2 separate regions of the Homo sapiens genome follow, and region 1 is linked to region 2. Evidence: fine-mapped expression QTL. A gene starts in region 2. The other region holds a variant in brackets. All regions are shown on one strand. Distances are from middle to middle.

Evidence for each region. PIP is the estimated chance that this variant, and not a neighbour inherited with it, causes the effect.
Region 1: its variant is fine-mapped to the expression of SNAP47 in whole blood (TOPMed, PIP 0.92).

What each region holds. Positions count from the first base shown.
Region 1 is chr1:227,771,248-227,785,788 of GRCh38, forward strand. It overlaps SNAP47 (synaptosome associated protein 47), which reads left to right. Exons shown (of 5, transcript NM_053052.4): 5 at 9,280-9,979. The coding sequence ends at 9,426. Among named protein-coding and RNA genes, the nearest start is that of PRSS38, 37 kb to the right of the region's middle. RefSeq lists enhancers at 2,818-3,635, 6,860-7,642 and a silencer at 5,347-5,547. The variant C/G (reference allele first, on the strand shown) is at 6,508.
Region 2 is chr1:227,727,024-227,741,626 of GRCh38, forward strand. SNAP47 (synaptosome associated protein 47) reads left to right here and starts at 8,412. Exons shown (of 5, transcript NM_053052.4): 1 at 8,412-8,476. It overlaps JMJD4 (jumonji domain containing 4), which reads right to left and starts at 8,279. Exons shown (of 6, transcript NM_023007.3): 1 at 7,989-8,279; 2 at 7,628-7,793; 3 at 6,884-7,009; 4 at 6,391-6,658; 5 at 5,858-6,004; 6 at 4,168-5,653. The coding sequence starts at 8,250. The coding sequence ends at 5,369. RefSeq lists enhancers at 879-1,484, 3,298-3,347, 13,671-14,216, 14,217-14,603 and silencers at 1,158-1,497, 7,801-8,000, 8,461-8,750.

The DNA of each region.
Region 1 (14,541 bases), 44 kb after region 2:
ATGCTGTTTTTATTTATGGCCTTGACAGCAGTCAGATAGAAGCGCTGAGCTAAGCCGCCATGTTTGGGGATCTGTGCCTTTACTATGAGTTCCTATTACTCATGCCCCTGACACCACATTGCATGCACTTTCTAAATGCTGATCCATAAGAAGAGGCTGGGAATGGGGACAGGGTGCCCTGCAGCCCAACATGCACACAGCAGGAGGCCATGTCCCAGGGGCGCCCTGGACCAGGTGTGGGGGCCCTGCATGCACGTAGCTTGAGGGTGCCCTGTAACTCAGACTTATGGCAGCTGAGTGGAGGCGGCATCACAGGGGAACACCACGCCTTCCCTTTTAACCTGTATGCTCTTTGGCTAATGGGTTTGTGACAGTGAACGCCTGCTCACCCGCCTCTGTGCACCCCGCCCACCCCCACCCCCACCCCCACCCTCTGCTTTTGCGGGTGAGCCACTCCTGTGCCCATGCCCCCCAAACTCCCATTGTGCTGGGCATGACTGCAGAGGACCCAGGACCCTGGGCTGAGCAGGGCCCATGGCTTCAGAGTGATGGGGACAGGAGGCCATGCCAGGCACAGCCCTTGGGGTCCCAGATGCTCACACCAACCAGTACCCAGAAACCACCTGGGAAACTACCGGTGCAAAGGGCCTGGCAGGAGAGAGTGTGGGACCTGTGCTGAGGGCCGGAGGCCAGCACCTGACAAGCCCTCCCAAGGCCACTACCAGGCTGCACCAGCTGAACAGGTCAAGCAGAGACCGAGTGCTTGACCGAGTGCTGAGTGGGACTTCAGGCTTGGAGGACTCACCCCACCCCAAGCCTTTCCTGTCCTCCCAGTTGTCGCTTTAATGAAGGCCAAGTGTGCGGGGCAAGTGCTGGGTGTCATGGAGGCCCTGGCTGTGGAAGGTAATACGTGTTATAGCAGTGGGGAGTTTCTCATTATTCACTTTTTAAAAATTGTGGTGAAATATATAAAACACAAATTTTGCCATTTTAACCATTTTTAAGTGTACAATTCAGTGGAGTTAATGAAATTCACCACCATCATCCTGCACAGAAACAGTTTCTGTGAGACACGAACCCACGTTTCTGCCCCAGCCCCCCGCCCACCACTCTGCCTTCCCTCTCTGCCAGCCTGCCACTCTGGGTTCCTTACAGCAGGGGAGTCACGCAGCCCTTGTCCTTTTGTGCCTGCCTTATTTCACTTGGCATACGGTTTTCAGGGCCCATGCACTGAAAACCCCTCTGTTGGTGGATGTACGAGCTGTTTCCTCCTTTGGGCTGCTATGGAGAATGCCGCTGTAAGCGTTCACGTGAGCATCTGTTTGAGGCCCTGCTCTCAAGTCTTTGGGGTACACAGTGGTCCTCTTATTATCAAGGGAAATGCTCTAAGACCCCTAGATCATAAAGCTTTACCCCCATGTTTTCTTAGGAGTTCTGTGGTTTTGGTTTCCTCTTTAGGTTGTGAGCCCATTCTGAGTTAATGTTTGTGTGCGGAGTGAGGTGAGGACCCAGATTTATTCTTCTGTGTGTCCAGATCGAGTTTTCCCAACACCATCTGGTAAACCAGCTGTTCTTTCCCCATTGAATGGTCTTGACACCCTTGTTGAAAATCCGTTAGCCATAGATAATATGAGTTTATCTCTGGTTTCTCACTTAATTCCATTTTGCAGTCTAATGTCACTGTTTTGATTACTGTAGCTTTGTCATAAGGTTTTTTGTATTTTTTATTTTGAGACAGGGTCTCACTCTGTCTCCCAGGCTGGAGTGCAGTGGCATGATCTCGGTTCACTGCAATCTCCGCCTCCCAGGCTCAGGTGATTCTCCCACCTCAGCCTCCCAAGTAATTGGGACTATAGGTGTGCACCACCACGTCCAGCTAATTTTTTTTTTTTTTTTTTTTTTTTGTAGACATGGAGTCTCCCTATGTTGCCCAGGCTGGTCTTGAACTCCTGGGCTCAAGCAGCCTTCCCTTCTCAGCCTCCCAAAGTGCTGAGATTATGGGCATGAGCCACTGTGCCTGGCCAAAAAAAAGTTTCAAAAGTAAAAAATAAAATAAGTTAAAAAGAGAAAACAGCATATAGGATAAGAATATAAAGAAAAATTATTCTGGCACGGCTATATAGTGTTTGTGTTTGAAATTTTATTACAGAAGAGTCAGAGTTAAAGAAAATCGTAGTTTGTAATATACAAAAGTTACAGGAAGCTAAGGCTCACCTGTTATTGAAGAAAGACTTTTTAAAATAAATTTAGTGGAGCCTTAGTGCGCAGTGTTGATAAAGTCCACAGTAGTGTTCAGTCATGCCTAAGCCTTCACGCTCACTCACCACACACCCAGGGCCGCGTCCAGTCCTGCCAGCCCTGCTCACGGGAAGCGCTCTACACTGCGTGCCATTTCGTATCTTTATGCTGCACATTTACGGCACCTTCTCCACGTTTAGATGTGCAGGTAGTTAGCGTGGTGCTCCAGCTACTTGTGCTGCTTGGTGCTGTGGTGTGCCATGCAGGCCTGCAGCTTGGGGGGGTGTGCCCCGCTACACAGCCGGCCACCACAGGCCCTGCCCCCTCAGTGTGTGTATGTGTACTCTAGCGTTGTCCCACGATGAGACCCCGAGCCATGGTTCCTCAGGATGCATCCACATCATTAGGCAGCACATGACTATTTTAGTATATCATGATTTTGTTTTCATTCATCTCAAATAATTTACTAATTTCCCTTCCATCACCTGTTGGTTGTTTAATTTGTAAACACTTCAGTTTGCCGTGTTGCTAGCTTCCCTCTGCTGTGGTTGGAGGAGACACCTGCTGTGGATCCATCTCTCTAGGCTTGTTGAGGGCTGCCTCCCAGTCCGTGGCCCATCTCCCAGCCTGTGGCCCATGGAGGCATCTGGTACAGAGGAGAATGGGCTCCTGCGGTTGTAGGTGGAGCTCTCTGCACTGGTCTCCTGGGCCATGGGTTTATAGTGCTGTGCAGGCTGCCTGTTCCTGTTTCTGTATGGATCCTCTGCTTAGCTGTTCTGTTCATTTTGACACGTTTGCTAGCCTTTAAATGTGGTCAGCAGGTATTACGCAGTCTTGGTTCAGGCTGGGAAGTGGGTTTGTGCAGCTGTTGACACCATGTGTTGAAGGATGAAAGAGCAATGCCGGAGGTAGGTTCACTGGGCCAGGTGTCACCCACCGGGAGAGTGAGGCTGCAGAGTGGCCCTCAATGGCAGGGGTCAGCACTGTGGCTGCTGCTGAGCTGTGTGTCACAGCCCTGAGTGTTGGGCCCTGTTCCTGTCCCCTCCATGCACAGCAGTGTCCCGCCTCGAGGTGTAGGTGAGAGGCAAGGGGGACCGGGCCGCAGCGCGCAGGGCAGAGCATGAGGTGCCTGGCAAGTTGGGAGCAGACTCATTGGCCACAGCTCTGGCCGTGTTGGTTCAGGCTGGGAAGTGGGTTTTGTGGGGCTGTGGCCAACCTCTTGAAAGAGCCACATTTTAGTGCATTTTCAGTTTGTTTCCTATTTTGAGGGTACCACTGAGGTTCTTCCACGTGTGCGATGCACCTTCAGTGGCACTCAGTTCACATTCACTGAACACTTTAGTGAGGGTTCATCGTCCCTCAAGCACTCGGGTCTCTTAATGGGAATCTCCATCCCTGGTCTAGGAGCAGGGAGCGCTCTTGGGCAGGACAATCCAGTCCAGGCCCAGCTCCTTGCTCTGCATGGCGTTTCCTGTGCACGCCTGGAGTGAGCTCAGCTGGCCCGGCTGAATCAAAGTCCCCTCTGAGCAGCGAGGCCGCCGTGCTCATTGCCTCGACCCACCGCCGCGGGGGCGTCCTGAGGAGGGGGGCCCTGCATCTGCCCCCCCGGCTAGTGCACAGACCACCTTGGCCTCCAGGAATGCAGCGGAGGGGACTTGGGCGGGCCGCAGGGTGGTCTGCGAGTGCCGAGTGTGACAGATCGCAGCAGAGAGTGTTCTTTACGGCCTCCAGAGCTTGGCTGCGGTGAGAGCCAATTTTCCCCCTTTACATTCTCTGCAGCATATTAATGGCCCCAACTGGTAGAACTATTTTGAGTTGTAGACAGCTTGATTTATCCCAGCTCTGTTCTTAAATGGTTGCTAATTTCTCACTGCAAGAAAATTCACAGTTCCTCAGTGAGTCAGCTTAATGACACGGCCAGGGCAGCCCAGCTAACAGCAGACTGCTCTCGGTGCTTGGCTTGGTACGGTGATGTGCCGCACTCCGGCGTCGCGAGGCGAGCCAGAGCAGACATGTCCCATGGGACACAAGAGCCGATGTCCCGCAGAGTTTGGAGGCCAAGGCCGTGCGTGCCTCTGGAGCACTGTCTTCCCGGGCTGCTGGTGGCAGCGAACGCACAAGGCTGGGACGTCTTCAGGCCCCCAGCACTCAGCCTTGCCCTAATGGTGCGCGCATGGACACACAGCTGCTTTGTAGGTGGGCCCACCCTACTTCATTAGGCTATTTTTCTATATTTATTTTTTGCCTTTATAAACAAAATGGAAATGGTGAGAATGCTAAATTCTCTTGTTTTTGCTCTGCAGGGCTTCCGGCCTATGTCGCTGTCAACCCAGACAGTGTTGGTGATGCTTTGCTCCGAGTCTGCAGGAGCTTTGTGGAGACAGAGACTTTCCTAGCAGGGCAGCAAGCGGAAGCTTTTCTTCCAGAACAGCCTTTGCTCAGGGCATGAGGGAGCCGGCCAGGCCCACAGCGCCCAGGGCATCCTCCTCACGGATGTGTTGGAGGAAAGTGGCTTTGGTGCTATCCTGGGGGACCATGGCCATAAGCTGGCAGTGTCAGCCACGCATCAGTTGCGTTTCTTTGTTCAGGTTGTGCCTCTTGCTGCCTGCCTGAGTCACCCAGGGCTGCTCCCCTTCCTGGCTCTGACGCCCTCAGCGGGTCCCACAAGCCGCTCAGGACCACAGAGTCTGGCCATGGGTCTGGCCAGGCATCCACTGATGCTCTAAGCTGCAGCTTCTCTTAGGAACACTTCTATCAGGTCTGGCTCGCAGGCATGCCCCAGGGCCAGCCTGGATTGTACTGTCCTTCAAGCACTCCTTGCTCTATTTCTTTGAAGTTTATAAAAGTTTGTTTCCCCCAAAACCCAAAGCACTTTTAATCAGGTAGTTTCTGTGGAGGTCGAACTGGCTGGAAGGAAGGCTGGTTCCTGGATTTCTTTACTCATGTAGCAGGGACTCAAGGAAGTCTGATTTGCGCCTCGCCTCTGACTCAGAGCCCATGAAGGTTCCTGTGTGAGGCCACTGGCTGCCTCGGAGCTGACAGCATCCTGCACAATGGCTAGATGGCTTGTCACCCCAGGCCGCAGAGGAACAACTGTTTCTAGGGTTTGGCCAGACTTCACATTCTCCATTCTTTCCATCCCTGTTATGTGGAATGCACACGATGCCATGTAATTACTTCAGTCCCTTCTCAAAGGAAAAAGAATCTGGACCTGCACTCCAGGACACTAGCAGTTTGAAGGTTCGCTCAGGAATGTTCTTTGTCTGCAGACCTAGCAGCTGTACAGATCGCTCTTGTGTTTTTGCACTATTAATTAACTTCAAGTGCAATTTTGGCAGGCAGGCCAAGGGTCTCAACAGGCTATTTGGAATGAGTTCTCTTTTAAGGCCTTCAACGTAGTGAGACATTTTCAAATCAAAAAGTACAGCAGGAGCCAGCCTTTATTTTGTCTGTGTACACAATAAAATATTCCGCTTCTATAGGCAGATCAGCTGGTCTTAGTCACAAATAAATTGTGCATATTATTACTGTGCTTAATAGGCAAAACCCTAAACTATAGAAATTTTTGCTATTCCCACTGCTTTCTTATGCACTAGAAAAAGGCATGAATTTGATGTCTTTTTTAAAAAAAAAAGTTATTTTATTTTCTTCTTTATATTCTGGGGAGATGTCATAGACAATATTTTTAGGTTGAGAATAATTGTACATACTCATGGGTTACGTAGTGAAGTTTTCCATACATGAAACATAAAGTGATCACATCACAACCAGGGTCACTAGCACGGCCAGTATCTTGGGCACGCACCACTCAGCCTTGCAGGGAAGGTGGCGCACAGGGGTGCCGGGCTGCCTGGGTCTGTTGGAGATGACCCTGGGGGACAGGCGTCTTGTGGGGAAGATAGTGAACGGGAGTGTGGGGCTGTTGGGGTCTGTGTGGAGGTGGCCCCAGGTGGACGGGCTTCATGCCTCCCTGTGGTCCTGATCTCCATGTGGCTCCTGATCCCTGAGTTGTTGCGGGTCTCTGCTGGGCCTTGCCGTAGGTAGTGTAACCTTCATGGCGGCTTGCTAGGACTGTATATAAAAGAAGAATATGATGTATGTTTAATAATTATTGGCATTGATGTATGTCAAATGGTACTCTATGTCTATTGGGTTCAGTACAGTATTTTATTTGTTTTCCCTATCATTTTTACCTTTGAACATCTGGGTCAGGGTTAGACAGATTTAATACAGCTTATTCAGCTACTCTTAGTGTCATCCTGCCAAAGA[C/G]ACTCCAGTCAGAGAGCCAGAGCAGGTCCTGGCCCAGCCTCCCTTGGATGTCCCAGGGCCCTGCCACCATCTGTAAGGGGTATAGGACTTCTGGCGGTGACCCGGGATGTGGTCTGGGTCATGCCCCACAGCATCTCTATGTGCAATGAGTGTATCCTCAGGACCGGGGGCAGGTCACCCTCTCTGTGAAACAGATAAAATGTGCCACGTTCTTAGAACAATGTCAGCTTACATTGCATATCCAATAACTCAGCTTTCATTCAGGATAGCTATAGGATGGTAAAAACAGAAGACAAAGTTGTGTATGTACTTTAATCCCAAATTTGAGTTATTCGCAAGAGTGTATGGACATAGCGACGGGGGAAAAAGCCAGATAGGAGTGTGCTTGTGTCACTGATGGTGCCAGCCTAACAGTGGTCTGTATTATGGGCAGATTTTGTTTTATTCCTTAACTTCTCTCATGTTTCCTGGTTTTCTACATGCAGTTATTAACAGAAAAGACAAATAGTGGTGTCTCCTGATAGCACTGCACGCCATGGTCATGGAGAGGGCAGAGCTGATGCAGGGGCTAGTGGGAGGCATTGGAGCTGTGGGTCCTGGCAGGGGCCTTGGGCCATCTCCCCAGCCGTCAGCTCATGGGAGCCCTGTGGCCCTGAAGGACATTTAAATTCTAAATACACTTAAATCACATTTTAGTATGGTTGACGAGGGACATAGGGACTGAGACCAGATCCCGAGCGGATCCATGTCCCTGGCTTCCAGGAGGCCTCCTCACAGGATGTGGGCACAGGGACAGTGTGAGTGTGCAGCCCAGCCATCCCTTCCAAGGGCTGTGCCTGCTGGTTCCAGCAATGCCCTCAGGATCACACTGACAGCAGGGGCAGGTGAGAAGGGAGCAGGTTAGCAGAGCCAGCAAGGGGTGGGCTGAGGCTTTCTTCCCTGTCACAGCACAATTTGGGTGTGGGCCACGTGAGATCATGGGCCAGGCGGTGGAAAAGACCTCCTGTGTGAGGTCATCTGCCCGTCCTCCTGGAGCCACTGACCCCACCATATACTTTCCAGAGCCCCATCCAGCGATCTAAGTCATGACTCAACAGATGGAGTTTCTGCCAGCTCCCGAGGGTGTAGAAGCCCTGCTGTCTGGGACTGGGGCTCTAGTCAGGCATTTATTCATCTGTCTTATGACAAATATCTCAGCAGGAAGGCCAGGTTTGGAAAGGGACATGTGGCTCATTTCACCTCTGCCGTGTGCCTGTGAGTGACCTCAGCCCCCAACTCCCTGTGCCATCTGCAGAGGGGCTGGGCAGCTGGCCGGGGAAGGGCTCCTTCTGCAGCATGGCAGCCACCCTGGCTGGGCCCATTCCGGTTTTCACAGCTTGTTCGCATTTGTGATCTCATGTGAGCCACACCGTTCAGTGGAGGGAGCTGGATCTGACCAGCTGGCCCTCTGTCCTGGCCGCCTTCATACTGTTTCTCATGGGTCAGATGAAGGCCGGACCATAGGCGGGGGCATTGCTTGTGACCCTGAATCCCAAGCTGCATGTGTCCCACTGCTGGCCACCCTGCTGGGGAGCACTGAATCACCTGCCCTGGCTGCCCAACCCCACAGGATGCTGAGCCTCCCGCCATGTCACTGGGCGGAGCGTGGGGAGGCTGCTCCCCCAGGGCTCAGGAGTGCTGTTCCTAGAGGCAACCAGAGGAGCTGTAGGGGCCCCCCTCAAGATCACCACGCCCTAGACCTTGGATGGTCACTGCTGTCCAACTGGTGGGTACACAGCACTGAGGGTTCCTTCTCCTGACCTAAGCAGTGATCCAGAACTTTCCCTGAAAGAGGACATGGACATTTATTGCAAGTGGTGGGTCACTCAAGTTTCCTTTCCAGTGTATTCTTCTCCATTGTCAGGTGGGCATATGAGGCTTCTAGACCTAGGCTGAGTGTGTAAAGCAGCGCTTCACAGTGTGGTTCACCTTCCTAGATTCCTCATAGAACACAGCTCATTAAGCCACAGACACAGCACCAGCTCAGCCCTTAGCTCATCGCCCCTGCTGCAACCAGGGGACACATCTCTGTGCTAGCATTCCTGGGGCGGCCCACCCCATCCAGCCTTCCCTATCCACACCTGCCTGGCCCTGCGTGCCTCCACCTTCTGCATCTGCTGGGCCGGGGACCATCTCCCACACCCCCACGGTGCTGGCTGCCCTCCACCGTATGGAGAGTTTCATTCTGTCATTTGCATTGTGCATGAAACATCTCACACTTAGAGACAAGAGAAGGGGTTTGTGTTTCTTTTTAATCCTGCTTTCCCACTCCAGTCTGCAGTTAGGGACCCACATGCAGACAGGTCTCACCCAGCATAGTGGCTGGGTGAGAGCTGGGACTCAAATCCGAGCTGCGTGCCCAGGTCCCCAGCTGCCCCACTGTGGGCAGGAATTCCACACCCACATGCAACGCTCCCACAAGGTCAGCCAAACAGAGCACTCCGCAGCCTGGAGATGGCAGGCCAGGGTGTGGCCACTGCACCAGGCAGGAGGTGCGGGCAGGCAGCTGGCAGGAGGTGGGGCAGGCACCTCATCTCATCAGGCCTGTACTGGCAGAGGCAGAGCCATGACCTGACCCTGGTGCTGGGCTGCCGGCTCCCTCCTGCTGGCTCGCAGATGGCATCACCCAGGTGGTAACGCAAAGGCTCTTGGGTGTGTGAGAGGGGGAGATGTTGTCTGTGCTAGAGTTTGCAGAGATGGCAGCCTCTGCTGTGATCTTGTGCTTCTCCCCAGATCCTGAGGAGGATGAAGGGGCTGGCCCTGGAGGCCGAGAGTGAGCTGGAGAGACAAGACGAAGCCCTGGATGGCGTTGCAGCAGCTGTGGACAGGGCAACCTTGACCATCGACAAGCACAACAGGCGGATGAAGAGGCTGACCTAGGGGCAGAACGTCCCTGCATTCCTGTCTCACCCTGCACATCCCGCTGAGATGGAGGGCTGGGCGGCAGTGCCAGGGCTGCAGAGGCCTGTGGCCCTCCGGAGTGGTCTTCCTCTGGATGGGGCTGCTACTGTGGGGCTGCTTCTGCACCAGGGGCCTCCCCAGGTGTGCACCATGCCTGCCTCCCACTTGGCTGTCCCTGCTGCTGGGCAGGACCCGGCCACATGTTCTGCGGATGCTGCAGAAGTGTGGACCATGGCGGGACCCCAAGGACACTTGGCACAGGCCTGGAAGAGGCCGCCCTCGTCTTGTCTCGGCTCCCTTTCATGGACAGACTGGCCTTCTTAGCTGTACTATAAATTTGTGAGTGAAGTTAGAGCCCAGCTCACTTAGCCAGCTCACTTTGAGGGCATCCTATAAACACCCAACTGTTCTTTTATCGTCTCGGTTTTAGCCAAAAGTGAAATTAGCATGACTGCATCTTTCAAACAAAAATATTGATTTCTGCTTTTAGGGCCCCGTTTCCATCCAGAAATAAAGGGAAATGCTGGCTTCAGAGTGGTTTTTGAAGATGGGTGCCAGTGTTTCCACCTGGTGCCTTGTGTCTGGGTCAGTGGCCACTCCCTCAGAGGCCCTGGGGTAGGTGAGCATGGCCTCTGGCGGGACTGCGCGTCACATTGCGGGTGGTGCCCCTTTGCCATGCTGCTTTCAGATGCCCCGTGCAGGGCTGCAAGGAAGGGTGCGGGCACATGGGAGGCGAGTCCCAGGATGGTGCCACGGCCCAGCCTGTGGGGCCTCCACGCTGGTGCACCCAATGCCCAGTGGTGCTGCCTTCCCAGGGCTGCTCAGTGAGCCTCACACACAGGGGCCCTCGCAGCTTTGCAGCCAGAAGCCCCACGTTGAGATATCCTGGGCGTGCTCCCTCCAAAGGTTCTGGGGAGGACCCTGCACGGCCGCCTGCCACAGGTCCAGGGCCCAACCTAATCCAGGATGGCCTGGTCTTGATGTCACTCACTGAGAATGTCTGCTAAGACCCCAGTTCCACAGGAGGTCCTGCTCTGAGGCTCCAGCTGGACTAGGGGCTGCAATGCCAGTCGCCAGAGCCAGTGCAGGTGCCTGGCAGGAAAACTGGGAAGCAGCCTCTCTAGAAAGCCACAGCCCAGGGAGCTCTGATTTTTTTTTTTTTTTTTTTTTTTTGAGAGGGAGTTTCACTCTTGTTGCCCAGGCTGGAGTGCAATGGCATGATCTCAGCTCACCACAACCTCCGCCTCCCAGGTTCAAGCGATTCTCCTGCCTCAGCCTCCCGAGTAGCTGGGATTACAGGCATGCGCCACCACACCTGGCTAACTTTGTATTTTTAGTAGAGATGGGGTTTCTCCATGTTGGTCAGCCTGGTCTCAACCTCTCGACCTCAAGTGATCCGCCCGCCTCAGCCTCCCACAGTGCTGAGATTACAGGCGTGAGCCACTGCACCCAGCACTCTGATGTTATTTTTTGTTTGATCTGGGAAATTGTTTTCTGCTTTTTCTTATTTGGTTTATACTTAGCAGCCTGCAGAAGGAGACCTTGCCCTGTCCCCTCTGGGGTCCTTCCACTAAGGCCACAGGTGAGTGAGTGCTCCCAGCCTGTCTGGACACCCCAAGGAGGCCAGTGTTGGCCCTCAAGCCTAGCCCAAGGCATGCGGACACCATGGCCCCCCCTCCTGTCAGTGCTGGGAGCCGGCAGCAAGGGCTCACCATGCCTGCAGCCACCGTGCAGACCCCCATCAAGCCTGGAAGAGGCTGCACCCTGTCCTCAGGACCTCACAGTGTGAGTGGGGTCTCCTCTGTCCCTGACCCCTCGCTGTTCTCAGGACTTCACAGTGTGGGTGGGGTCTCCCCTGTCCCTGACCTCTCACTGTCAGCAAGTCCTTGCAATATCAGGTGAGGCCTTTTGTGTCACTTGACCATTCCTTGTCCACTGGACCTCAAAACTAACATGATATACAGTAGTAAGAATGTAGAAACTTTCCCACTAAAATCACGACCAAGGCCCATACATCCGCTCTCACCATCTCCTTTCAGCACTTTAAGCTCTAACAGATGGAACAAGGCAAGAAAAGGAAGTTAAAGTTTAATGATACTGAAAGAAGAAACAAACTCTCTTTGTTCACAAATGACATTTTCCAGGTAGAAAGTGTAAAAAGGGATCAAGAAAATCCCCTAGAATAATGAACAACTATTCAAGATTTCAAAATATACAAAAGTTAATCACTTTCCTATATACCAACAATGGATGAGTGGATTTGAAGTTAAAAACAAAGTACTTCTACTTTAGCACCCCCAAACAATAAAATACTTAGGTACAAGTCTAAAAAAAGTGTACTCTTTCTATATATATGAGAAAAACTACAAAACCCTGATGAACAAAAGAAGAACCAAATAAATGGAGAAAAATTCCATGTTTATGGATAAGAAGACTCAGTATTTTCAACATGTTTGTTCCTTCCAGCTTGATCTATAGATTCAATGCAATTTCAATCAAAATCCCTGCAAGTTATTTTGTGGATATTAACAGATGATCCTAAAGTTTTTATGGAGAGGCAAAAGACCCAGAATAATCAATTCAATACTGAAGGAGAGGAGCAGAGTTGGAGGACTGACGCTACCTGACTAGAAGACTTACTACAAAGCTGCAGTTACCAAACCAGTGTGTTATTGGTAAAAGGAGAGACAAATAATAGAACAGATTAGGGGACCCAGAAATAGACCCATATAAATATAGTCAACTCATCTTCTGAGAAGATTCAAAGGCACCACAATGCAGAAAATGGTCCCACAATGGTGCTGGGACAACTAGATGTCCGCATGTGCAAAAGAAATCAAACAGACCCTACACCCTAAACAGAAATTAATGAAAAGGAGCTGGGCGCGGTGGCTCATGCCTGTAATCCCAGCACTTTGGGAAGCCAAGGCAGGTGGATCACTTGAGGTCAGGAGTTCGAGACCAGCCTGGCCAACATGGTGAAACCCTGTCTCTACTAAAAATACAAAATTAGCTGGGCATGATGGCGAGCACCTGTGATCCCAGCTACTCGGGAGGCTGAGGCAGGAGAATTGCTTGAACCTGGGAGGCGGAGGTGAGACAAGATCACGCCACTGCACTCCAGCCTGGGTGACAGGGTGAGATTCTGTCTCAAAAAAAAAAAAAAAATTATTCAAAGGGATCATAGACCTAAAAGTAAAATGCAAACTAGAAATGTCCTGGAATATATCATAGGAGAAAATGTAGGTTACCTTAGGTACGATGATAGCTTATAAATTTTTTTCACTCATTTAATTGTTAATATCTGTGGGTACATAATAGGTATTTATGGGGCACATGAGATGTTTTGATACAGACATGCAATGTCTGTATTTTTAGTAGAGACAGGGTTTCTATGCTTTTTTACAAACAATCCAATTATACTCTTTTAGTAATTTTTAATGTACAATTTATTGACTATAGTCACCCTGTTGTACTGTCAAATCAAAGGGCATATTTCATCTTTCTAACTGTATTTTTGTACCCATTAACCATCCTTGCCTCCTCCCCAAACCTCCACTTACCCTTCCCAGCCTCTGGTAACGATCCTTCTACTCTGTATCTCCATGAATTTGATTGTTTTAATTTTCCACAAAGAAGTGAGAACATGTGAAGTTTCTCTTTCTGTATTTGGTTTATTTCACTTTATAACATAATGATCTCCAGTTCCATCTATATTGTTGCAAATGAGAGGATCTCATTCTTTTTATGGCCAAATAGTGCTCCATTGTGTGAATGTGTATATACTTTCTTATCCATTGGTCTGTTGATGGACCCTTGGGTTGCTTCCAAATCTTGGCTATTGTGAACACTGCTGCAACAAACATGGGAGTGCAGATACCTCTTTGATATACTGACTTCCTTTCTTTTGGGTATATACCCAGCAGTGGGACTGTTGGATAATATGGTAGCTCTCTTTTTAGTTTTTTGAGGAACCTCCAAACTGTTTTCCCTAGTGGTTAATTGGTGGCTAATTTACATTCCCTTGGTAATGGCTTTTTAGATATAGCATAATAACAAAGCCATGATCCATGAAACAATAAATTGACAAGCTGGACTTTATTAAAATTTAAAACTTAATGCTCTGCAAATGACACTGTCAAGAGAATGAAATGACAAGCCACAGACTGGGAGAAAATATTTGCAAAAGATGTCTGACACAGGACTTCATCCAAAATAGAAAAAGAACTCTTGAAGCCAGGCATGGCTCCCAACAACTCAGGGGGCTGAGACGGGGGAGGATCCTTTGAGGCCATAAGTTTGAGACCAGCCTGGGCAACCAAGCCAGACCCCCATCTCTAATAACAATGCTAAAATCTAAAAAAAAACTTTTCTGAACTCTTAAAACTCAGCAAAAATTAAAACCCAAGTAAAAGTGGTACCCAAAGACCATAACAAACACCTCACCAAAAGATATACAGATGGCAAATAAGCATCTGAAGAGATGTTTCACATCGCATGCCATTAGGGAACTGCAAATTAAAACAAGGAGGTACAACTACACACCTGCTAGAATGGGCAGAATCCAAAACACTAACACCACCAGTTGCTGGGGAGGACATGGAGCAACAGGAACTCGCATCCATTGCTGGTGGAAATGCAAAATGGTGCAGCCACTTTGGAAGACAGGGTTTCACCATGTTGATCAGGCTGGTCTCGAACTCCTGACCTCGTGATCTGCTCGCCTCGGCCTCCCAAAGTGCTAGGATTACAGGCATGAGCCACCGCACCTGGTCTAAGAAATACCTGAGACTAGGTAATTTATTAAAAAAAAAAAAAAAGGTTTAATTGACTCTGTTCTGCATGGCCGGGGAGGCCTCAAGAAACTTACAATCATAGCGGAAGGCAAAGCAGAAGTAGGCACCTTCACAGGGCGGCAGGAAGAAGTGAGTGAGTGCAAGCAGGGGAATTTCCAGATGCTTATAAAACCATCAGATCTCATAAGAACTCACTATCACAAGAACAGCATAGGAGAAACTGTCCCCATGATCCAGTCACTTGCCACCAGGTCCCTCCCAGCGACCTGGGATTACGGAGATTACAATTCAAAATGAG
Region 2 (14,603 bases):
GATCTACCCGTCTTGTGGCTGCCCAAGACCATGCTTCTGTGAGTTCCCCAAAAAATCACCTCCAAGTGACAAACTGGATTTGTCTGCCTCATTCTTTGGTTTCTCAGTTCCTTCTGTGTTTGGGAGTCACTTTGCATATATGGCCTCTTCAGAAAACATAGTCTCAAAACCTCACACCAAAGACCAATGACTAGCAGAAATTCTTGAGCTTGCAGGATGGCACATAAGAAAATAAACAACTTGCTGAAACCCTGAAACTCCCCCATGTTATGATATCAAGAAAAAAAATTGAGGGAGAAAAAAACAGGGAGACACTGTCCCTACAAAAAGTAAAAATAAGTCTAGCGTGGTCGGGCATGCTGTGGTCCCAGCTGTTAGGGAGGCTGAGGTGGGTGGGTCGCTTGAGCCCAGGAGTTCCAGGCCACTGTGCCCCAGCCTGGGCAACATGGAGGGAGGCTGTCTCTTAAAAAAGAAAAAACTGCCTGAAACCAATTGGAACCAATATGGCCAGCCGGAATTTCCACAGAATGAGCTTGTTGACTTCATGGCCTGAATTTCGATGCATGTTTCATACTAACTCCCCCTCAGTTTGCACATGGGACCCATGAGGTGACGTGAAGAGATAACTGCACATACCTGGGAACTTCTCAGACCTCCTCGTTTTCTTTTTCTTTAGAGACAGTCTCACTCCGTTGCCCAGGCTGGAGTGCAGTGGCACAGTCTTGGCTCACTGCAACCTCCGCCTCCCAGGTTCAAGCGAATCTCCTGCCTCAGCCTCCCAAGTAGCTGGGATTACAGGCCTGCGCTACCACGCCCGGCTAACTTTTCTATTTTTAGTAGAGACGGGGGTTTCATCGTGTTGGTTAGGCTGATCTCGAACTCCTGACCTCAGGTGATCCACCCACCTCGGCCTCCCAAAGTGCTGGGATTATAGGCCTGAGCCACCACGCCCGGCCATTCAGTGTATTTTCTAATGTCCCTTTTCATTTCTTCTTCGACCTTTTCATAAGTTTGAAGTGCACTGATTGATTCCACATATTTAAGTTGCCTGGAGTTCCTTCTGAACAGACAGCAGCCTGCCGGGCTGGGAGAACAAGGACCTGGGGTTGTACAGTCTGTGGCGCACAGAGTCCCTGCTGGAACCACAGGCGGTGAGTCAACGGGCACCTCCGGGCTAGGAGGTTTTCCCAGGCTCGCCTCATTGCTCCTGCACCTGCAGGGTTCGCTGGACCCTGGGCGTCCCGCTGCCCGGAACACAAGGGTAGGGAAGGGTTGTTACTGGGTTTCTTGGCTGGGGCTGCAGGGCCGGTGCTTGCCACCGGAGCGGGGGGGGCGGGCCCCGCTGTGCTCAGAAGGGACCTGAAGCCAGGGAAGCCCCAGGGTCGTCCTGGGCCCCGCCGCCCGCCCTGCCTGCCCCGCCTGCCCCTCCCATCCCGTCCTCTCCCCGCCTCCCTCCCAGCCCCGCCCCACCTGGCTCTCCCGCCCCGGTCCCGCCTCCTTCCTCCCGCCCCTGCCCTCTCGATCCAGCCTCCCGCCCCCTCCCCGCCTGTCCCTCCCGGCCCCGCCCCGCCTCCCGCCCCAACCTAGTGCCCGACAGGAAACCTCCCACCTGGCACTGCCCCCAACCAAAGTCATGAGGGCAAGGCTCCGGTTCCTGCCCTCACAGGGTCCCAGAAGCAAGGGCAGTGAGGACCTGGCCCACGTCCCTGGCACGGGCTGTCTGATTCTCCTTCGCTGTGGCGGGAAGATGGCCGGATTTGAAGGTAATACCCAAGACCCCGATTCCCGACAGGAGAGGCGAGGGGAACGGTCTCGGGAGCAGGCAGGCCCTGCCGCGGAGCCGAAGGCCTCCGATGGGAGCAGGCACGCATCTCTGAGTGGGGCCGCGGGGGTGGACACTCTGGTGCCTTCACGCAGGGGAGGGGGGCGGCAGGCTGCAGAGGAAGGCCAGGATCCACGAGCTGCGGCTCTCTAGGTGGGGCGAGGGGTCCAGGCGGGGTCTGATTAGGGCGTGGGGCCCCAGGTGGGGTCTATCTGGGGTGTGCGTCTGCAGGATTCTGCCCGTGGATTTTCCTCTAGCTTCAGGACAGGGTTTGGCTCTCCCAGAGGAACAGGGTAGGAGCCCAGCTCCAGCTGTTTTCCTGTAGGTCAGAGCCTGCAGTGGGAGGGTAACTGGGGCCTGTGGAAGGGGACTTCTGGGGTCAGACCCCAGGCAGGAGTGAGAGGCCCAGGTCCCTGGAGTTCCTGCCTCCAGGGCTGCTGACTTTGGGGGTACAGACAACAGGACACTGGACATCTTGGTCCCTACCCTTGGCTTCTAGGCCAGTGGAACAAGTCACTGACTTGGAAACCAGGGCCTGCCTTCTTTCTGCCTGGGGACCCAAGGTGCAGCTGGTAGTTGCAGTTCTGTGGGACGCTGGCACAATCACCTGCCAAAACCACCCACAGTGGTGGATGGGGGACAGGGCTGAGGTTGACACTCTGGAGCATGGATGAGCAAAGGGAAGGATGTGGCCTTGGATGTGGCTCTCAGGGATGCCCCAGACCTGGGATGTGGGCTTCAGGGTAGCTGGCCAAGGAGCTGCCCCTTCGGCTGGGTCAGCAGGCGGAAAGGCACAAGCATGAGGATGGTCTTGGTCCCTGGGGGAGGCACCTTCTCCGGAGGCCACAGCCCCCAGGATGCAGGGAGCCTGGTTTTGCCACAGCCAGCAACAACTTGACCTGGGGCTCCTGTCTCCACCTCCATGGATTCCAGCCAATCACAATTGCAAGCCCAGGGCAGGGCAGGCACGTGCTGGAGGAGCCCCTAGGCCCCATCATGTTCCCTCACTCTGTGTCCTCCCAGGCTAGAGTCTGTGCAGACAGCAGGGCCTGACTTTTCCAGCCTTCCTATGGGGGCCCACAGGTCCCACTCCCCAAGGAATCTGGGCCACTGCACGCCCTCACCCAGGCATGGTGGGGTGCACAGCCATTGTCCCCACACTTGCAAGTATATCCATCTATGTGCAGCTCCCACGTAGCCTTAGGTCTTGAGCATCTGCATTGTTTCTCTGACCCCTTTCCTCAGGAACACTAGTTAGCTGCAGCCTGCCTGTCCTTTCTCACACTTGATAGGGATGACACGCAAAGGGCAGGGGCTAACCACCGCACATCTGCAGCTCCTCACCTCGTACCCCAGGAGGTTGGTTCCCAGGGAGACGTGGCCTGTCAGGCCTCTTGCAGAGGTGAAATTCCCTTTGCGAAGGCCCTCACATGTGCTGACAGCATGCCTCCCCAACCCCGGACAGGATCCCAGGGCGGCATACTTGGGAAAGGGGCATCCTGCCTGACACTTCAAACTGCTGTCTAGCCACACTCTGCACAGCGGCTGCCCCACAACCCACCTGGCCCTGGTGTCAGCATTTTTTTTTTTTTTGCCAATCTGGAGTGAGGTATGCAAAAGGAGTCATGGTCATTGACTATGGAGTCATCGATGCCGGCTGCAGTTCAGCCGTTGCCCTGTGGAGGGCTCTATCTCCCCCCACAGAGCTTCTGGCATTTGCTGTTTTTGCTGCATCTGTAACAGCCCCAGCCTGAGATTCTCAATGCCTGCTTTAACCAAGAAAAAGTGACTGAGGCTAGCAGGGCTCTCGGGAGCGTCTGTGCACTGCCTCCTGACTGCGGAAGCATGAGGGTCTTCACATACAGTTCAGGAGCGCAGGACCAAGCAGCCTGGATGGTAATGGGCTGCGACCTGTGCTACCTTGTGCTGCCAGTTCGCACTGGGCCCTGGCTGCCCTGGGGTCCACAGTGCTGCCCTCATCATGACAGAAGCTGAAGGACAGGTCACCTCAGCTGCCTGCTGGCAGTGTCCGAGGCACATACCCCCACTCTTGGCCTCAGGTGTGCCTGTGTGGCAGGGTGCCAAGAGGCCCAAGCTCAGAGGTTACCGGAGGGGCTAAATGGGTGAGCCACGCCCACACTCAGCCTGGGCCTGGTCCTGGCAAGGCTGCAGCCGTGCATGTTTGCTACCTCCCCCTCCTCCCCGACAAAGCACCTTTGCTGCCCGTGGTTTGGGCAGCGCCAGCTCCATCTGTAGGAGGCCGGATGTCTCAGGGCATTCCCGTACAGACCAGGGGTCCCCGGGAGCTAGCAGGGGGGCCCAGCATACAGGTCCCTGGAAAGCTGTTGGCTGGAGCGCATTCATTCGACAGACACATATGAAGCACCTACTGTGTAAAGCTGCCTTTGCAAGCACTTCACATGATTCACTGAACAGAGCAGACAGAAACCCCTGCCCTTCTTGGGGGCTTCCATCCTAGACAAGTGCCAGCGGCCCCAGTTGATGCCACGGGCAGGCAATGTGCATAGCCATGGCACGTGCCGTCCCTGTGGATTCGGATGCCTCCTCCCCTGCTGGGGTGAGGCAGCCAACCAGGGGCCAACTGAAAAAATGCTGGACTCTCGGTCAAGGACAGGGCTGGGAGAGTGCCAGTCTCCACAAACTGTGGATCCACTAGAGGGTTCAGGCCTGGGGCATCCTCTGCAAGAGGATCCCACGAGAGTCCATTCCCCACCACAGGCCTCCGCTGCTCACTGCTGTGCCTTGATCGGCCTGGACGAGCCCGCCCACACCTCCATCATACCCAGTGTGAAGAGGGGCTGGGGACCCACCACTCCTGAGAACAGCATCCTTGGGAAGACCCAGCTGTGAGTGCACAGCAGGCACAGTCCCTCAGGCCCAGGTGAGGATTCAGCAGCAGATGGGATTCCACCCCATCTGTGGCCTCTCCAGCTGTCCACAGGCCCTGCAAAGGCAGGGAGGTGGCAAAGGCCAGCCCAACCCAGCCCTCCACTCTGGGTACCCAGAGGAAGGCGCAGGCCGCTGGTTCCACAGCCCATCACCTGGAGGTGATGGAGGCCAACCCCAGCCCTGCCTGGAGGCCCTGGTGAGCTTGCCCAGCACTGCTCCAACCCCTCCCTGAACCCACAGGGCAGAGCCAGGGGTGGTCCAATGGCCTGAGACGAGGGGACAGGGCTGGCCTATTAAGAGGAGCCACCAGAGAAGGCACACCAGACACAGACTCCTGTCAGCTCAGGCGTCCTGGCCTAAGGAGGCAGGGCCCCCAAAAGAGCCAGGTCCTGGCACCATCTCCGAGCTCCCAGCAGGCCTGCTGCAGGTCAGAAGGGCCACATCCCATCTTGGGTCCCTGACCTCATTGGGCCTCACCTGAAAACAGGCACCCAGGCAGTGGCCATGAACAGCCAGGCCACAAGCCTCGACAGGGGTGGGCCCCAGGTCACAGGGAGGGCGGTCTTTATTTCTGGAAGGGCCCCGGAGCAGGAGGCTGCCTCTCTTCCACCCGTCCTTCTATCCTCACGACAGGTGCTATGGGGCCGCAGCAGCATCAACAGCCTCTCTCAGCTGCTGCAGCAGCTCTTTGGGCTGTGGTGAGAACGCGCTGGTGTCCACTCTCTGGAAGTCGGGGTGCGCAACCAAGGAGGCCAGCACCTCTGTGATGCGCCCAACATCAAAGGCTGCCTGTTCGAAACCCAACCCAGCACCGTCCTCAGCGGCTGCCTCCCTCAGGACCAGGAGCCTCTTCTCAGCGATGACCTTGAGGAAGTGGTAAAACTCTTCAAAGTTGATGCCCGAGCAGGACCTCATGATGACCTGGGCAGAGGGAAGAGGCCAGTGAGCTAACACCATGGACACAGTCCAAGCTGCAAAGGACCCGACATGCGCCCAGTCCCCAAGGACGAAGAAGGGACCATTAAGACAGAGGCACTGAGAAGCTGCGCGGTGACCAAGGGAGTCTGAGCCATGCAGCCTAAAAGCCTCCCCCAGGAGGGTAGCCTCCATGCGTAGCCACCCCACCTGGCAGTGGTGGTGCCAGTCGGGCATGGAGTCCCTCCACTCGCTGACCTCCTCCTGCACGGCGCATAGCTCCTGCTGCAAGAAGCGCCACATGTTGGCCAGGTTGAAGCCATTGACCCAGTTGTGGTTGATGGAGATGGTGTCATCCTGGAAGGGGCACAGTGCAGGCAGGCCTGAGCCCATGGCAGGTGCCCCCTGACCAACCCACATCTCCTGCGCCAGGAACCCACTGTGGGGTCCAGCCCTCTGCAGCCAAGAGGGCCCTCCTGTCTCCCAGCAGGGCTTGCTCAGCAGGGAAGTGGGTGGCGGGCTCGGACCACCTCAGGCCACAGTGAACCCAGAGCAAGTAGACCCAGGGACCGGCAGTGGGTGAAACAGAGGCTAGGCCTCAGCGACACCACCTTGTGAAGGGGTCAGCCTCACCCATGAGCCACCCCATTCCAGCCCAGCTCTGGCTGGGAGAGTGGGGAGGTGGTGCTGCCGTCTTCCTGCAGGAAGGCCCCTGATAGGGGGCAGGAGAAGCAGCACATTACCAGGTTGTGCACCTGGTGGTGCCAGCCACTGGGCACAAACACCATCTCGCCCGCTTCCTGCGTGATCTCCAAGGGTGGGCCAGCAAGCTGGTTCCGTGGGTGCAGGTGTGTGTCGCAGAGTGCTGGGGAGGTCACGTCGTAGGGCAGGTTGCCGTGGCGGTCCCGCAGGGCCTCTTCCTGCCCTGGGGGGAAGAGGAGCCACTTCTTCCTCCCACAGACATTGACAGACCAGCTGAAGGAGCGGAAGATGTCAGCATGGAACGGGGACCTGCGGCAGCAAGAGCGCCTGGTTCATGCCTGTAGGGGCTGGTATGGGCTTTGCTTGGCACCCCAGAGGCCTGGTCCAACTGAAGGAGGGGTGGCCCCTTGGTCTCAAGGGATGGCACCCACTGTGAGGCCTGTGCCAAGCAGCCCCCCTCCTGCCACCCTGGGCCTCCCAGTCCGTTCTGTCACCAGGCCCCTTCGGGTTCCACTCCCACATCCGTGGCCTCACCAGCTGCCCGCAGGCCCCGCGTAGACAAAGCGGTAGTCATCCACATCCAGTGCATCCCAGAACTCATTCAGCCAGTCGGACGAGAAGTACACAGGCAGGGTGAAAACGTCCTCCACCGGAAAGTCCCTGTGAGGAGGGCGCAAGGGCACCACCGACAGCACGTGAGGCACGAGGAGACTAGGGCAGCACGAGTGGGGCAACTGAGACCAATCGGCTCCAGTGGAGCTTCCAGATGGCTGCAGCCCCCAAAGAGCCCCAGACCCTCCTCTGAGCCAGACGCTGCTGGCGGGGGAGGGGGCGGGGCAGTCTGACTACAATGGTTCTGCTTATTAGAAAGTACTGATCATGCCTATAATCCCAGTGCTTTGAGATGCTGAGGTGGATGCATCACCTGAGCTCAGGAGTTCAAGACCAGCCTGGGCAACATGGTGAAACCTAGTCTCTTTAAAAAAAAAAAAAAAAAAAAAAAAAGCCGGGAGTGGAGACGCCTTCCTGTAATCCCAGGTACTAGGGAGGCTGAGGAGATCTCTCTCAAAAAAAAAGGAAAAAAAACCATATTGACCTCCCAAAGAACAACACTTGCAGCCATGCGGAAGACAATCCAGTTTCTTTTAAACTGATTAAAGTGCCTCACGGGGAAAAATAGCTCCGTTGTGCACCCAGGGGCCACCTTCATCAGAAAGGCCTCTGGGTTCACGCAGCGCTAGGGAAGGCAGCGCCTCGGTGCGTCCCAAGCCCCATTACCTGCACAAGTGCCAGTCTTTGAGGTAGAGACAGCCCCTGGGAGAGGAGTAGCCCGCCTGTATGTACTCTTTCCAGTAGGTGATGTAGTCTCTGAGAGTCATGTGCTCTTTGGGGTTCGAGTTGTATTCCTGGACCCCACAGTTTGCAACTGGTACAACCACGTCTCCTGAAATGAAAGGCACGGTCCATGCCATCTCCCTGGGCCCCGTCCTCACTCCAAACCGTCTGCAGAGGAACTCTCCAGGGGCCACGCGCCTGGCCTCCCTCACCCTCCCTGGTGCCCCTCTCTAGGCGGGGGCCTCCCGGGCCTGGGTCCCGCCGGCCTTTCCTCCCCGCCCGGGGTCTGCGGCCGCCGCCCCACCGTAGGTCCGTAGCAGGTGGTCGAAGTCGGGCCTCCCCGCGGGCGTCACCCAGCGCCGCCGGCTGCCCCAGCCCTGCGTGAAGGCGCTGGAAAACACGCAGGGCAGGTTGGGCAGCAAGAAGCCCCGCACAAAGTCGGCGTAGGAGAAGGCGCCCGGCTCCGAGACGAAGGCTACCCGGCCCGGAGCCTGGCCGACGCCGGGGACATCGACCCCCAGGCCTCGGAAGTGGCTGTCGGCGAGGGCGCGCGTCTCGCGGTCCATCCAGCTCAGCACGGGTCGAAGGACCCTCCTCCTCACTTCCGCCGGAGCGGAAACGGTGAGGACCAGCCTCGGAACCAGAAGACGCAGGGCGCCGCGTTTCTGCCCCGCCAGCGCCTGGGGCTCCGGGCCTGCACGCATGCGCGCGGCTCGCCGCGGTCTTCACTGCGCAGGCGCCGAGCGGCCGAGGCGCCGCGGTCGGCTCTGGGACTCGTCTGGCGTCCCTCAGGTGAGCGACGGTGTTGGTCTGTTGGGCGCCCGGCCCAAGCCAAGCCGTAGCGTCCGCCCTCGGCTCAGTCCGCGCGCTGTGGCTGACACAGCCCGAGCCCTCCTTCCCGCATCCCCGGGGGGTGGGGGGTATGCGGGCTGCGCTGGGAGAGGGGCGGGGACAGAGGCGGTTCTGGGGGCGGGAGTGCGGCGGTGCGGGGGCGCCCAGGGATGATGGGACCCGGAGAGAACGGTGGGACCCAGAGGGAGAGCTGGGGGGCCCTGGGATGGTGGGATCTAGCGGAGATGGTAGGGTCCTGGAGGAGATGGTGGGGACCTGGAGAGGACGGTGGCACTTGGAGGGGATGGAGACGGGATCTGGAGGGGACGGTGGGACCTGGAGGGGATGGGGACAGTGGGGACCTGGAGAGGACGGTGGGATCTGGAGGGGATGGGTACAGTGGGGACCTGGAGAGGACGGTGGGGACCTGGAGAGGACGGTGGCACTTGGAGGAGATGGGGACATTGAGGACCTGGAGGGGACAGTGGGGATTTGGAGGGGACGGTAGCACTTGGAAGGGATGGGGACAGTGGGTTCCTGGAGGGATCAGTGGCACCTGGAGGGGACATGGGATCTAGAGAGGATGGTGGGGACCTGGAGGAAAATGGTGGGAGGGCTGGAGGGGGCAGGGTAACCTAGATGGGCGAATGGGGCCCACAGGGGACCTGGAGGGCATGGCAAGGGGCCCCAGGGGATGACGGGTGTCTGGAGAAGATGGTGGGGAATGAGGGAGGGTGTGAAATGAAGGTGTGGTGGGAGTGTGGGTAGGGATTTGGGGCTGTGTACACATGAGCAGGGCTGAAGTGGGAGGACATCGGAGTAGTGACATGAGGAGTGTTTTGCCAAACTTGCAACTGGAGTTACCCCAAAAGTGGCGGCAAGGGAGTTCCCCACACTATCCTCAGGTGGGACCAGTTGGGATACCAAAGAAAGAAGTGCTAAATGCATGGTAAGCCCAGAGCAGTTTTTTTTTTTTTTTTTTTTTTTTTTTTTTTTTTTGAGACAGTATGCAGTGGCACCATCACAGCTTACTGCAGCTTCCACCTCCTGGGCTTGATGAATTCTTTAATTCTGCTTCAGCCTCCCAAGTAGCTGGGACTACAGGCATGAGCCACTATGCCCAGCTTAGTTTTGTTTTTTTGTTTTTGTTTTTTTTTTTTTTTTTTGTAGAGACAGGGTCTCTGTGTTGCCCAAGCCGGTGTTGAACGTTTGGGCTCAAGCAATCCTTCTGCCTTGGCCTCCCTAAGTGCTGGGATTACAGGTGTGAGCCACTGCGCCAGGCCCTGCCTAGAGGTTTTGTTAGGGGAACTTTCATATAGAGTGGGCTGCGGTAGTCCTCGAGACGGGCAGTAAGGGAAAAGGGATGTCCTCCCTAGGTATGTCTCTTGGAAGGGGTGTGGGTTATGGAGTTTATAGGAAGGTTTCAGGAATTTGGCTCAGGGCCAAGGCCGTTTTCTTTGTAGTAAACCTAGATACTTTCTTCCATGCCTGGAAATGTTAAAGGCCCTGGATTGGGTTGAAGCCTGGTGGGGAAAACCTGTGGTTGGGGCACAGAGGGATCAGGGTACTCTGTGATTTTCGGCCAGGACACGAAAGTGGGGCCATGGGGGACCCTATGTGATGTATGTCTTGGTGTGCTGGAGAAATCAGCTCAAAGCTACCCACATGGATGCAGAAGGAAAGATAGCAGATTTATTGCCCCCGAAGCCTGGCAGGCTGTGTGCACATAGGTGCTCTGCGAGAGAGTGCAGAGTCTGGGCAGCATTTCCCAGGCGTCTTGACAGGGAGGTGGAAGGAGGAACAGTTAGAACCGCTCATCTCTCCCAGAGAAATGAGAGGCAGCTTGTGCTGGTTTGCACACAGTGCGAGGCCTTTGAGTTAGGTTTGGAGGTCTGATGACATTCTAGGGGCCATCAGACCATGACTGTGTCTTGTAAAATCTGGACACTGGGCTATCTCATTCCAGACCAAACAGAGGCATCCTAAGCGGGAGAGGGGCACCTGCCTTCCCTTTATGAAGCAATGGAAATGTTGTTTTATTTACTCTTATAAGTGGGGATATGGGAGGTTCTAGGAGTGCTGGGGCTCTGAGCCTTGCTGGAAGACTCTTTCCAAGGGGTGTGAGGTTTACCCAGGAGAACAGGGAGGAGCAGAAGAGGGAGGACCAAGGTCTGAGGAGTTGGAGGGAGGACTAGGAGGAAAGTGAGTTTTGGGAGTCTGAGTCCAGGTAAAGGTGGGATATGAGGGCAGGGACAGGAGGCGGAGAGTTGTTTTGGGGATTGTGTGATTCAGTGCGTGCTATGGTCCCTTCCTAGTCAGCCCTATTGTGGCTTGTGTGATCACGGTATGCAATTGTTTATTGGGGTTTTTTTTACACTAGAGAATCAGAATGTCTGGAGAAGTTACAGTTGCAGAGAAAGAATCACCTCCAGTTCCGTCCAGAGATGACTGGGGTTTTTTTGCTTTGGTTTTTTTTGGTTTTTTTGTTTTTTGTTTTTTGTTTTGTTGTTTTTGCTGTTTTGAGACCGCGTCTTATTCTGTCACCCAGGCTGGAGTGCAATGGCATGATCTTGGCTCACTGCAACCTCCGCCTCCCAGGTTCAAGTGATTCTCCTGCCTCAGCCTCCTGAGTAGCGAAGATTACAGGCGCGCACCACCACGCCCAGCTAATTTTTGTATTTTTAGTAGAGACGGGGTTTCACCATGTTGGTCAGGCTGGTCTCGAACTCCTGACCTTGTGATCTGCCCGACTCGGCCTCCCAAAGTGCTGGGATTACAGGCGTGAGCCACCGCACACCCAGCCGAGATGACCGTTTTTTATTCCTGGTGTAGAGCCGGCTTTTCTACATTCCTTCACACATACATTCATTCATTCATTCATTCTCTCTCTCCACTCTTCTCTCCCCCCAGTCCTTGCCTATACGTTCACGCACATGTATGCACACACACTCACACATACACAGTCTCTTTCTCCATCGTGTATAATATACATATATAAACTTTTGCTGCTTTTAGTCTTTTGTTTTTTATTTAACAATATGCTGTAACATCTTGCCACATATTGACCTCAATATTGACAATTAATTGACCTTAATTGATCTTGCCACATATTGTTCCTTAATTGCTAGTAGTCATTTGATTTTGGTTGTGGTGCATGCAGATCATGGGAGGCCAATGGGGAAGATGTGGGGAGCAGAGTGTTTATAATTGTCTCAAGATCTTGGAATATGGTTCCGAGTTTGCCTCATGGGGAAACTGAAATTCAGGTGGGCATTGCCTGGAAGGAGTTCCTGCAGCTCCGTGGTTGAGCCTGTTTCCTAAGAAAGGAGCATTTGGGCTAGCAGGTCCACAGCTCCCTGAGATCACTGAGCCCCTAGGACTTGGTGGGAGATGGAGCTCTCGTTCTTGAGATGGAACTCTGTGGTTTAGTTCGCTGGTCCGCAGGGTGCCCCCTCGGGTCAGTGTCACCACTGTATACGCAGGAGGCCTGGAGTGTTATCAGCTCTCATGGGACTGGAACATAGGCTTGTGTCACCCAGAGCCCGCTAGATCAGCCCTGGCATCGCTTGGGAATGGCAAGAAATCCACATTCTTGGGCCCCACACAATACTCCATTAGGATGGTTTTTTGTTTTTGTTTTAAAACGGGGTCTTCCTCTGTCACTCAGGCTGGAATGCAATAGCGCTATCTTGGCTCACTGCAACCTCTGCCTTCTGGGCTGAAGTGATCCTCCACCTCAGCCTCCCAGAGTGCTGAGATTACAGGTATGAGCCACTGTGCCTGGCCAGGACGGGTTTTAAGTCAGCACTTTGGAGAAAATGCAGTACGCTTTGTGCCGAATATGTGCTCCTCTGTCACTGTGTTGCATGCAAACAGCCCCAGTGAGGGTGTCTGCACTTTGTGGCTAGAGTTGGGAACCTCTGAGGGAGTGGAAAGAGGGTCTGAGGAGCAGGGGAGGGGAGCCTGGAAAGATTGGCCGCACCCTACCGCCCCTGTGGGCACACACAGCCACCACTGTTCTCACTTAGCTTCTTGGTTGCGAGGTAGTGGAAGGTGTGCAAGATGTTTGTTCTGTGACTGCGGAAATTAACTAAAAATAAGTTGTTTACTGGGTACTGAGCCTCACTCAGGGGACCCTTGAGTGATGGAAATGCTGAAAGAGACCCATTGTACAGATCGCCCTGCGTGCTGAGCCATCCCTGTGCTGCAGACTTCCTCCCCAAGAGCGTCACTTGTGTGGGTTGGCTGCAGACACCCTTGGGCCCCTGGCCATGACCTCCCTCGAGGATTCAGCTGTGTGTTCTCAGGGTCAGCGCGGGTCCCCAGGCCCACACCTGCACTGGAGGAAGGAGGTTGCAGATTGCAACAGGCAGGGACACCGTGAGGGCTCCAGGACCTGGACTGATTGCAGAACTATGTGGTACAGGAGGGCATAGGCACAGCTCTGTTTCCATGTGGTGTGGTTGTGGTCAACTCAGCACAAATTCATTGGGTGCCCATGGTGTGTAGCGGGCCTTGCGGCCCTCCCATGATAGTGCCTTCTGTAGTGCGACAGTCATGAAAGCACCAACTCTCTGGAGTTTTGCTTGGGCCATGGTTGGTGACAGTGCCTTAGGAAGGCGAGGAAGCCCTCCGAACAGAGACCTGCGGAGTGGAGCCACCAATGAGACTCCCTGGTGTGGAAAGGCTGCTGGGAGCAGAGGGCAGGGGAAGGCCAGGGCAGGGAGGCCGCAGGTCCTGCAGAGTCCATGAGGCTGCGGTAAGGAACTTGGATCTCATTCCAAGTACACAGGGAAAGGCTTTGGGCAGAGAAGTGACATATTCTAATTCTGTTCAATGACTATCTCATTGACTGCTGGAGGGGGAATGGGTGATGGGGACAGGATGAGGTCAGGAGGTTGCCTGAGATGTTGTCCAGGTGTGGAGGGAGGGAGGACTGCCTTGGATGGTGGAACTGTGGAAAGTAACTAAAAGTAGATTGTTTCCTGGAGATTGAGTCTCATTCAGGGGGCACACATATAATGGAAAGACTGAGAGAGACCCATTGTACAGATTGCAGTGTGTGATGAGTGAGTCCCTGTGACTACAACACCTTCCCCCAAGTGTGTTGCTTGTGCTGGTTGGCCCAGACAATGCCTGTGCCAGGTCAGTGATGTGGTCTTGGGGTGGAGGGTGGGGACACAGCTGCCAGGACATGCTCATGGCATGTTTCTTGAGGGGGAGGAAGAGAGGAGTCAGAAGTCCTGGGCCCGTGGTGACTTTACTGAGAGAGGAACTGACTCTGGTGCTGCTACACTGGGGTGCCCATTAGGGGTGGGAGGAGGTGCCCAGCAGGTGATAGGGGAGGAGCTGAAAGCTGAAGGAGGGGCTGTGAAGTTGGGGTGCCCGTTAGGGGTGGGGGCAGATGCCCAGCGGGTGACAGGAGGGGCTGTGAAATTGGGGTGCCTGTTAGGGTCAGGGACAGATGCCCAGCGGGTGATAGGGGAGGGCCTGTGAAGTTGGGTTGCCCGTTAGGGATGGGGGCAGATACCCAGCAGGTGATAGGGGAGGAGCTGATGGAAGGAATGTGAAGTTCAAGTGCCTGTTAGGGGTGGGGGCAGATCAGCGAGTGATCAGATGTCCAAGTTTGAAGCGTGAGGGAGTCTGGCTGGAGTGGGTGTTTGGGAGGCAACGGCTTGGGGGTGATGTTGAGTTTCTGGCCTGTGTTGTCTCACCTGGAAAAAGAGGGTGCAAGGAGGAGAGGTTGTGCCCTGTGCAGTCAGGTGCATGAGGAGGCTATGGCCAAGGAGAGTGGACGCAGGCACTCATGGAAGTGGGGCTGGAGACCTGGAGAGGGTAGTGGCCAGGGAGCCAGGGTGCAGTGACTCTCAGCAAGGCCCCTTGGCTCATGGGCCAGGTCCAGCTACCACATTTTTGTAAGTGAGGTCCTGTGGGGTGGCACACCCCATGTTGATGTCTTGTGTGTGGCCACTTTCATTCCACCCCAGCAGAGCTGTGTAGTGGTGACGGAGACCATGCGTGGTCCTTCACGGAGAGTGCAGTGCCTGGCATGGGAGGGCCGGAGAGGTCTGGGGGCTGAGAGAGAGAG